Regions from separate parts of the Homo sapiens genome. Here region 2 is linked to region 1. The links come from fine-mapping of genetic effects on plasma protein levels. A gene starts in region 1. The other region holds a variant in brackets. All regions are shown on one strand. Distances are between the middles of the regions.

Region 1 (5,379 bases):
TTCCACAGGTAAATGAGGATCTGGTGTTAAACAGAAAAGTTAACATACTCTTCAGTTCTCATCCTACACGTAAAGTATAGATATTATGCAGCACACAGCACTTGGACAATCTTTTCCTCCTTTCTTTAAAAAATAATTTACAAAATAATTCCTTAAATCAGTAGCTGCCGAAGTATCATTTTTTTCTCTTCCTTTTGAGGCTCAGGTTTCTTTCATTTCAAAACATATTCTTGAAGACTTAAGTTCTTCCTTTAAGAAAGATTTAATTATTTAACTCAGAAAGAGGGGCAAAAAGTCAGGAGGTGAAACCTGAGACAGTCCTATTAGTCTTACATAACTTAAAGTTGGAACTGATTCAGTAGCTCAGCTAAAAACCTGAGGTTTAGGCACAAAGATGAGCTCTTTAGTATACTCTCCACAAACATAAATAAACAGTTTTTAAAAATGGAAAGGATCTTAATTTCTTTCTTCACTTCTTAAAATAAAAGCACATACATGTATAGTAACTTACGATACTAACATAAAAATACTAAATTGGTTACGCTTAAAATGAAAAGCACTGAATTCATCGTATCACATTTAAGTAATGCTATAATTGACAGAATAGGGTATAATTTCAGAAAGTAAGTTTATTTCCTAACACTAACTTTTGAATAGCACCTCTGTAAGTATGCATTAAGTACTTAATAAGTGCTGCAGGGAACATCAAAAAGTGATTTTCAAACGCAATATGTGTATGTTCTCCAACTTGTAAAAAAAACTCTGAAAATATATAAAGTTACAGTTGTTCATGCTTAATTAAATTAGCTTTGATTATTGCAAATTACTCCTCCAAGGGCAAGTATGTATCAAACCTTTCAAAAATCTTAGGTTTATATCAGCAATTATCCTTACTAGAAAGGTCCTGATCTGAACTCACCTAAAGCTATGTGTTAACTACATTTCACCACTAAGACACTTGAGCCCCGGGATAATAATGGCCACGGATTCCCCGAATTGCTTCGAGAACTGCTGCTTGCTTAATAAAGCGCTGAACTGTGAATTCACCTTTCTAAACAGACTAAAAGCAAGACGCCAAGTTTCACTATCTAGTTTGGGATTTCACTGGGAATGACCACGTTATCAAGATGCCATAGCCCTCCTGAGGCTTTTAATTACAATACCTTCTCTGTTTTCCATTCAACCACCTCAATCAAATTTCCACTAGAACCAGGCACACAAACAGTTGATTCGTGGCTTTGCGCAAAGCCTCCTCTGGATGCAAACCCTGGGATCCTGCATACATTAGTCCTCTCAGGGAGGGCAAAAGGGGAAAAAAAGTTTGTTAAACAATGCCGCTGGACAATGTGGTGACATTACCTTGCCCGTCTTGTGATCAAACCAGACGAGAGCGTGGTTCCTTGATAGCACTTTGCAATCAAAAGTGGCATTATTCTGCGCTGGTCGACAGCGGGCCACTGAGCGGCCGATTTTGATGGGCTCGTCCAGGTAGACATGACGCTCCTGAAACGGGTGCGAGTTCGGGCGGCAAGTGAAGATGGCCAAGGCTGACGGCATCGAGGATAGACTGGGGGTGTCTCTCCTACCAGGGACAAAGAGGAGTTCCTCCGGATCCGGACTGCCCTTCACAAGCCTATGCCCCTATCCCACCCAAAATTTTAAATTAACACAAACTGCACATTGTCTAAGCATAACCAGTGAACATCAACTCTTCACTTGGGTGGGAAGACAAGCCAGCGCAAGCCCCATCACCTCCTTTAAAACGCTGCAACGCCGTGATCACAAAAAGTCCCCAACTGGCAGCTTTCAGTCCATCTTCTTCTCTGGGAAGAAAAGGCTCAAACATCGGGCAGCTTCGGCCAAGAAAACTCCTGGAACACAGTTTGGGGACTGGAGGTATCCAAGCAGATGAGTCACACGCCAATTCTTGTGTTTGGTTTGAGATCGCGGCCGCTTTTCCCCCTTGGTGGCGGAAACGTTGCAGCACTGCAGCATGAATGAAGGGTCGGTTCGGCGCGGCCAGGAAAGTCCTTTTGGGCCGAAGGAAGGTGTGGCTGGGCACCTCTGGGCAGCCACCGCCAGTCCTCGCCCGGAGTGAAGGGGCGAGAGGTGACGGAGACGGAGGGGCTCTAGACGGCCGGCGGGACAGTCTGCATCGCCCCTGCTGAGCGGAGGCCGCCCCGGGAAGGGGGACGCGGTCCCCGGCCTGGCACGATCCGAGACGGCGGTGGCTGAGGTTCTCCGCGCGAGGCGTGGAGGCCGGCGGGGCGCGGGCAGTGGCCAAGTCGGGACTCCTGGGCACCTGGCGAGCGTCCCCGCGACCAGGGCGGGGACCCGGCTCCGCAGGCCGGTGCGGACCGAGCGAGGCGCGACACCGGGAGGCTCGAGTTCCCAGGCGGCAGGAAGTTGGTCCCCGGACGCCTAGGCTTCTGGGCCGCCGCTCAGCACATGGGCCGCCTCCCCTCAGGGTCGCCCCCGCGAGGGTCGCATCTCAGGGACGGCAGCCGCAGCTCCCGGCGGACGAGAAGGTGGGGGAGGGAGACTGGCCCGGAGGTTGGGGAGAGGCCTTGAGGCCCCGGGCTGGATCCGCCGCAGCCTCCACCGATCGCGGCCGATGGGGCAAGCTCAAGCTGCGCCCGACGAGGCAGGAAACTTTCCGACCTGGTGGGGAAAACATCAAAACAAACGGCCGTCAGGCGCCTCAGCCCGCCCGCCTCAGCCGTCGCCCCCTCCAGCCAGACCCCCGCCAGCCCACACCGCTAGGCACGACCTCCGCCGACCTCTCCGCAAGCAGGCTACGAGGATTTGGAGCCAGGACGCCACGACGGGTCCTACCTCCCTAGCCGCCACCACCGCCTCAGCTTACCTTGCCAGCGCCGGCCGCCATAGTGACTCTGACTGAAACCTACCCGGTGCACCGCCACGGGAACGCGCACCCTTCAAGGGCCCTCCTACCCCCTCTCCCGCGCCGTAGTCCAGGAATGTCACGTGAACGACGCCACGGAAGCCGTGTTGGTAGAGGGCAGAAAAAAGGGCAAGGTAATTTTTAACGGGCCTCCAGGCGCCATCTTAGTTAAGGGCTGGAAGCTTCAAACCTCGGGACAACCTTAACGACCATTTTGGTTAAGGGCAAGAACAATTTGCGCCGTAGAAGGTTTTTCAAACAAACAGTGCCACCTTCTTATTTTATCTACTTAGCAAGGGGGTGCCAACTTTTACTAAATTTTATTCTGTTTAATTCTCGATGAAAATACTAGCGAGCAAAAGAACAGACCCAGCCAAAGGAGATGGTCATTAGCAGCCATCTTAGCTGTGGGCAACACAGTCACCCGCAGCTACCTTAAGTGTGAGCCGCCAAACTCCCTGAAGTCTTAGGATTTGTGCACCTAACAGAAGGACCATTCTCCCCTCTGCTAAATTCGTTATGTTTTCTTCCCGGAAAAAAAAAATCTTAGTTCCCGCATTCCATTTCGAATGACAGTCTTTCTCACTGAACCTATTATGTGCCCCCAGGGCTCCTGCGCGGATTCTTCCACAGAAGGAGCGTCCAGAAAGTTTAAAATCATGTTTCTTCCAAAGAGAGATTGAATAATTTCCAAAGTGAAAAAAGAGGGTATTTCCCCCACTTACAATATCAAGATGAGGAGTCATTGGTCTAAAGAAGGAAGACTTTGCAAGGGCTAAATGAAAACTTTAAGAAAAAATAGTGAGAAGGAGACTTACTCATTTAGAATCAAAGGTGACTTCATTCTTCAGATTCCTGCAATAACAGGCTCCACCACTGTGTGACCTTAAGCAAGTTTCTAAACTTTTTCAAGCCTCTTTTTTCTCATGGATGACATGTTAATAATAGTTAATTCACTTGATGTGGTGAGACTTCAAAATGTTAATCCATGTTGTTCAATAAAGAGTAGCAATTAGGCCGGGCGCGGTGGCTCACGCCTGTAATCCCAGCACTTTGGGGGGGCCGAGGCAGGCGGATCACCTGAGGTCGGGAGTTTGAGACCAGCCTGACCAACATGGAGAAACCCCGTCTCTACTAAAAATACATAATTAGCCGGGCGTGGTGGCGCATGCCTGTAATCCCAGCTACTTGGGAGGCTGAGGCAGGAGAATCACTTGAACCCGGGAGGCGGAGGTTGCGGTGAGCCAAGATCGCGCCATTGCAGTCCAGCCTGGGCAACAAGAGTGAAACTGTCTCTCCAAAAAAAAAAAAAAAAAGAAAGAAAGAAAGAAAAAGTAGCAGTTATTCATCTCAATACTTATATAGACAGTTTGGCCGTGTCCTAGGTTTTTGCTGGGCCCTGGGGACACATAACTGAACCAAACTTCAATTCCTGCCTTCTGAGATCATAACGGTATTGTGGGTTAGAAATGAGGGTAGGGAGTGACAAACATGAAATTGATGTAATCAGGGCTAAGATAGAGGCAGGCACTAGCTGCCCAAGGGGTCAGGGATGGTCTGGGAGAAGTAACTGAACTGAATGAAGGAAGATAGGAAAACCACAATAAATATGGTATTCGCTGAATGGTTTCATGAATTTCCACAAACACGGATAGCAAGGAAAAGAAGGAGCCTACTTGAAACAGTGCACCAATGTGCCGGCACATAATAGTGGATAAATAAGTATTTGATGCATGAATGAAAATTACATACTGTTACTCATTATTAGAGGATAAAGTAGGCGGGACACAAAGTGAGTCTGGAAAGAATAGGCATTATATAATAAAGACGTTATATTCGTTTTTCAAGCTCTTCATCAATTCAACAAATATGTGTCAAGCTACCACTGTGTTCCAGGTATGCTATTCAAAATGAGGATATGTTGGAAAGCTTTCTTATGAGAGGATGAAAAGTTTTCACTTCTGATAACTTTTAGGCTGTTAAGGAATAAAATAAGATAGGACCCTCCACAGATCCCTAATGAGTTTTTTTTGCACGAATAGCAAGTCATTTATGCATTCTTTCATACATTCATTCTATAAACATTTAATTGATACTGTGAAATAGATATTTTGAAAGGTCCTGGAAATACAATAATGAAGAAACAAAAAGACTCCCTCAAGTTGCTCGATTTAGGTGATGACACAGAAAGATCCTTGCTGTAATGGAGTATGTCAAGAGTAGTGGAAACATGGCAGAGTAGTTTAAACTGAAACTTGAAAGGATTAGAACAGCTAGTCTGATGCTATTGGGATAAAGAAATTTTAAGCTAAGAAGCAATCCCAACAAAAGTCCAGAGACTTGAGAGAACAGGACTTTAAGGGAATTGCAAGTAGGTTCGTATCACCAGAGCATAAGAGATAAGGGAAAACGAGGAGAAAGAGTGACAGAAGTGAGGTTTCAGTTGCTGAAGGACTTCTAGGCAATGCACCAGA
Region 2 (5,379 bases), 940 kb after region 1:
CGCTGTGCAAACATAGCTTTGAGATGGCCACCCTGCCACCTCCCACATGACTCCCTGAAGTCCTTTTCTTCTTTGTCCTCTCCTGTCACATAAAATTCAGAATTTTCAGGAGAATTTCAGAATTTTCAGTAGAGTTTCAGAATTTTCAAGATAGAAGGGAACTGAGGGTCACCCAGTTCTGTTTGGTAACAAATGTGTTCCACTTCTTCCCCTAGCCAGAGTCCCAGGACAGAGGGTTAGCTCATTATGTCTTTGGCTCCTCTTTTATCCCTAACCTCTCGGGTATAAAATGTAAGTGATTAATGTTCCACAAGACTTGGACTGAAAAACTTTAATCCAGTACATTCTGTTTGATCAAAACAGGGTCCAGGAAAGTTAAATGACTTGTCCATAGCTGCCACAGTCTGTGGGTAAACAGGGACCAAAACCCAAGGCCACTTGATCCCCCATGCGTGGCCTTCCTATAAAGCCACTTGCCCATGGTGTGGACATGATTGCCCTGTGGGTACGGGGCATGCTGGGGCCAATGACACGCTATCTTTGGGGAAGGGTGTAGCTTTGTGGTTAAGACCATCAACGTTCTGGCAGACTAAGTAAGTTCTGGCATGGCTATTTAGTAGCTGTGTGATCTTGAGCAAGTTACTTATCTTCTCTGAGCCTCCATGCCCTCATTTATACAACAGGGCAGTACCCTCTTCAGCAGGTTGTGAGGATTCAGTAAGGTAATATATGTCACATGCTTGTCACAGGTCTGGCATAAGGCAAATGGCACCTAACATTATTTTCTAGCTTTTCAGCACTCAGGTGTGAACTTCCCAAGTCATAATGGTTCTTTCTGTTCCAGCTGAAGTTAACTCAAACCTGTCTTTATTACTCCATTTGTTGAAAGAGAATCTGATATGGAACTTTTTGCTTGGATGATGTGCCACACATGTAGTCTACTGTTAGAAATTGTTTAAAAATCTGAGTTTCAGAGCTGTCTTTCCAACTGGTTGGTTGGTTCCTGGGTTTTGAAGAGATTCGTTCCTCCTCCAGACTTATCTCCTCGCTCTGTTTGGGACCATAATAAACCTAGCTACTGTTTATGAAATTATTACTATGTGGTAGCCCCTTAACCAGGTTTCTCTCTAATCTTCACCTCCACCCTTTGAAGTAGGTGCTATTTGGTCCTGATTGCAGATGAGGAAACTGAAGTTCTGAGAGACTGAGTAACTTGCTTGATGGTTGATATTTTGGTGGTTCTCCCTCGTGGAAGGTGGAAGAGCACACTGTGCTCTGTAGTTTTCTGGATGTGAGATTATGTCTAGGGTGACTCTAGCACTTGGGGTTGACACCTGACAAGGACTTGAGTGAGCATCCAACCCCCTGATTGATCAGCAGGGGAAGCTGGTGAGCAAAAACGTCACAGGACTGGACCCAAGTCAGCACTGCTTCTCATTCAGTGTTCTTTCAGTCATATCATATAGGCTCAAATCCTTGACCCTTGCATCATAGGCTCTGGCCTCAGGACTCCCTGGTTTGTGACTGGCCTGTGAATTAACGTTCCGCTTCAGAATTGGAACTTGAGGTTCTAGAAGCAAGGTGCTTGCATTTGAACTCCAGCTCTGCTGCTTACTAGCTGTGTGACTTTGGGCAAGTTGCTTGAACTCTCTGTGCCTCAGTTTCTCCTACTATAGAAGTACTCATTTCATAGGATTGTTGTAAGGATTACTTGAGATACTTCATTAAAGTCAAAGCACAGTGCCTGGCAGAGAGCAAACACCTCTTCGGCTCTCAGCATCATTTACTGAGCTCTCATCACTTGCCAGGCATCTTTTGGCAATGGGGATGTAGCCTTGTACAAGCGATTCATGATTCTTTTGGAGCGTACAATCTAGTAGGGGAAACAGATGCTAGAGAATAATGAAGATTATGATTTATTAAGTAATTCTAGTGCTATTTGTTATTTATGGGGCACTATTTAGAAGTTGCTGCAAGGTATCTTTGTTTTTAGTTCTAATTCTTATAAATGGACAACATTAATGTAAGTAAGTATTTTGGGTAAGAAGTTTGGCCAGGGTTGCACAGAACCCTCAGCTTTGAGAAGCCTGTGGTTTAGCATCTCATGCCAGCAACCATCTAGATGTGTATTTTTGTTTTGTTTTTTAGAGACAGAGTCTTGCTCTGTCACTCAGGCTGGAGTGTAGTGGTACAATCATAGCTCACTGTAACCTCCAACTCCTGGGCTCAAGCCATCCTCTTGCCTCAGCTTCTAAAGTAGTTAGGACTATAGGAATGCACCATCATGCCCTCCTAAATTTTTACATTTTGTGTACAGACAGGATCTCACTATGTTGGTCAGCCTGGTCTTGAGTTTCTGGCCTCAAGTGATCCTCTTGCCTCAGCTTCCCAAAGTACTGGGATTATAGACATCAGCCACCAAGCCCAGTCAGTCATCTGTGTTATATCCAGAACAGAATTAGGTATGGCCCTACCACTTAGATGCAAGCAGCCCACCCTTGAAGGGCAGAAGGGAAGCTGTGACTGGGCAGAATCCACAAGGCAGCAAGACTTGGTCCACTGAAGGAACAGATAGCTCTCATAGTCATAACAGGCCTGTAGGAAGAAGACAGTGTAGGAACCAAATGCTGTTGTAAAGAT[A/G]ACACAGGCACTATGTAACCGAGTACCTATTTTTAAGTGACAGTGGTATATTTTAGGCCAGTTCTATCCCATTTGTAGTCTGTCTCCATTTTCCCTCAGTAATTCTTTTCTCATAGTTGATCTTTCCTCTGTTTCAACCTCTTGTTTGCTTTGCCATTTGATATTAAAAGAATCTATATGCATATGCATTTCTTGACAAATGAGTACATTGAGCTTAATTTTCTGATGAGCCTTCATAAAATATTACCATGCTGAACCAACCCAAAATGTGGGCTGCCTATACCAAACATGCTAATTTTAGACAGGGTGCTTTCATCAGTACATAAGATATGAATTTTTATTTGAAAGCTTTCCTGAAATTAAATAGCATAAAATCAAGATAATACTCCATATACACTTCAGTCTTTGCTGTTTAATAGAATCACAGAAGCATACACATTTATGTTTAAATCACCTTGTTATATGGTTCAAGAATCTATGTCTCAGAGAGATCACTTGACTTGCCCAAGACCACAGACTTAATGGTAGGGCCAGATTGTATACCATGTCTTCTTTTTTTTTTTTTTTTAATTTTTTTAGAGGTGGGGTCTCGCTCTGTTGCCCAAGCTGGAATGCAGTGGCACGATCATAGCTCACTGCAGCCTCAAACTCTTAGGCTCAAGCAATCACCCTGCCTCAGCCTCCTGAGTAGCTGTCACCATAGGCATATGCCACTGTGCCTGGCTAATTGTTATAATAATAATTGTTATTATTATTGTAGAGATGAGGTCTTACTTTGTGGCCCAGGCTAGTCTCAGACTCCTGGGCTCTAGTGATCCTCCCACCTTGGCCTCCCAAAGTGTTGGGATTATAGGTGTAAGCCACTGCACCTGGCCCATGTCTTCTAATTTAGGTCAGTTCACTCTTCACTCTGCTGCTTCTTTTATATATGTGCAACAGTCATATCCTTTTTTGAAATTATAAGATTAAATCAAAGAATTAATGTCTTTGGAAGCAAGGAGTGTTGGAAAAGTTCTCCAAATTCCACCTTTTTTCCTTAATTCATTTAAAAAAAAAGGGAGAAGGATGATTTATTTACCGGAAGGGTTAATAATAGCATGACGTGCTAACTGTATGCTTAGAAATCTGACATACATATTATCTTATTGGATTATTCATGTGTTTTTAACTCATTAAAACCTTGAAACTCTCATATCCCCATTTTATAGATGCTTAAACTGATGTTTGTCATCATTAAGTAAACTGTCCAAAGTCATATAGTTGGCAAGTGAAAACTTGGTATTTGAACCCAGGCTTCTCATTCTAAAGCAGAGGTGTCCAATCTTTTGGCTTCCGTGGGCCACAGTGGAAGAAGAATTGTCTTGGGCCACACATAAAATACACTAACACTAACAATAGCTGATGAGCTTAAAAAAAATCGCAAAAAAAAGTCTCATAACGTTTTACGAAAGTTTACAAATTTATGTTGGGCCACATTCAAAGCCATCCTGGGATGCATGCAGCCTGTGGGCCATGGGTTGGAAAAGCTTGTTCTAGAGCTTGTATTCTATGTTCTTCCAGAAAGAAGGACAGAGTGTTGAGTATTCCACAAAGAAAATTTTGCTGTAAAGGCAGAGTGGGAGGGAAATATCTTATTCTTTTTCAGTTTACTAGCTCTTCACTTTATAATTTAACCTTCCATATTAAAAGCTTCTCTAGGAAGTGAGAATTAATTTGGGGGAAGGAAGCCTCAATTATTCCTGCTTCCAGCTGGTACAGATGCTTGGCCACTTCAGGACAGGTAGGAGGGAGAATGTTGGCATCTGTCTACTGAGCTCAGAAACTGGAGAAGCATCTAAATTCAGGAATGATGCCAGGTGGGGTGGGGGTGTGGGAGGGAGGAAAAGGATGTGGTGTTTGGGGCCCATAACTCAGGAAACGTGATGGCACCTAATTTCAGAGTGGCATGAGGCAAGCATTTAGGAAAAGAATAGTGAACTATTGTTACAGGTTTTTTTTAAATGGGTGGGTTGTTTTTATAAAGTTTTATGAACAGGAAACTGAAGCAAAATGCTGATCCTTTTAGTTTTTGAGCTCTGCCAGCATCATTTTTATATTTATTTTTGAATTTTGATGACAGGCACTTCCTTTAACACTTCTGGGAGTAAAGTGTAACAAGATACCCCAAACTGCATTTCATAACAGCAGAATCCAAATGAAGAGTTGTAGTTTCAGATCTTTTCGATAACACGGTGAGACAGAACTGGATCCCTCCCCAGCCAGGGGAGAAAGAGAACTCTTTCAGTAACTGAGGCAGTCTGCAGAATTTTTTCCCTTTCAAAACATTCTAGAAAATTTGCCTAACATGTGGAAAACCTCTAACATGCATTAAAATGGGATAGACTGTGGCAAAGAAAATACAGATCAAATTCTCCTCCTCCCATGAATCATAAAAACCCAGCCTTCCCAGCTATTGTTTCTCCTGGAAGATGACTTCATCTTAAAGAAAGTGGTTCTATCTGTTGTGTGTTTTGGATGCACTAAACCAATGTTTCAGGCATCTGGCTGCCAACTTTGGAGATGTTAAAAGCCTGTTTTGTTCCTGCAGGGCACTCTTTCATTGCCTACCTTATAAAAGTTATGTCTTATTGCATTTTCCTGGCACCAGAGCAATCCTTGTACCTACCCATTGCATTTGGTTTTTCTGAGCCTGCAGGCAGCACTGGGTTATTAAAGTTCAAGGAGGAATCCACATGATGT

Which allele goes with the higher level. Positions count from the first base shown, and alleles are read on the strand shown. Strength reflects both the effect of a copy and how common the allele is.
In carriers of allele A in region 2, the plasma level of the protein whose gene starts at base 2,900 in region 1 tends to be lower than with G alone (weak association).

The links. PIP is the posterior inclusion probability: the model's chance that the variant is causal. The UK Biobank Pharma Proteomics Project read protein levels with antibody pairs (Olink). The fine-mapping took linkage between variants from a reference panel, not from the people measured, so its PIPs are less certain.
Region 2: its variant is fine-mapped to the plasma level of the SLMAP protein (UK Biobank, PIP above 0.99).

What each region holds. Positions count from the first base shown.
Region 1 is chr3:57,753,830-57,759,208 of GRCh38, reverse strand. SLMAP (sarcolemma associated protein) reads right to left here and starts at 2,900. Exons shown (of 25, transcript NM_001377540.1): 1 at 2,867-2,900; 2 at 1,360-2,661. The coding sequence starts at 1,557. RefSeq lists a silencer at 2,163-2,442 and enhancers at 1,990-2,891, 2,813-2,992, 3,023-3,302, 2,892-3,794.
Region 2 is chr3:56,812,983-56,818,361 of GRCh38, reverse strand. It overlaps a transcript of ARHGEF3 not described here. Among named protein-coding and RNA genes, the nearest start is that of ARHGEF3, 14 kb to the right of the region's middle. The variant A/G (reference allele first, on the strand shown) is at 2,641.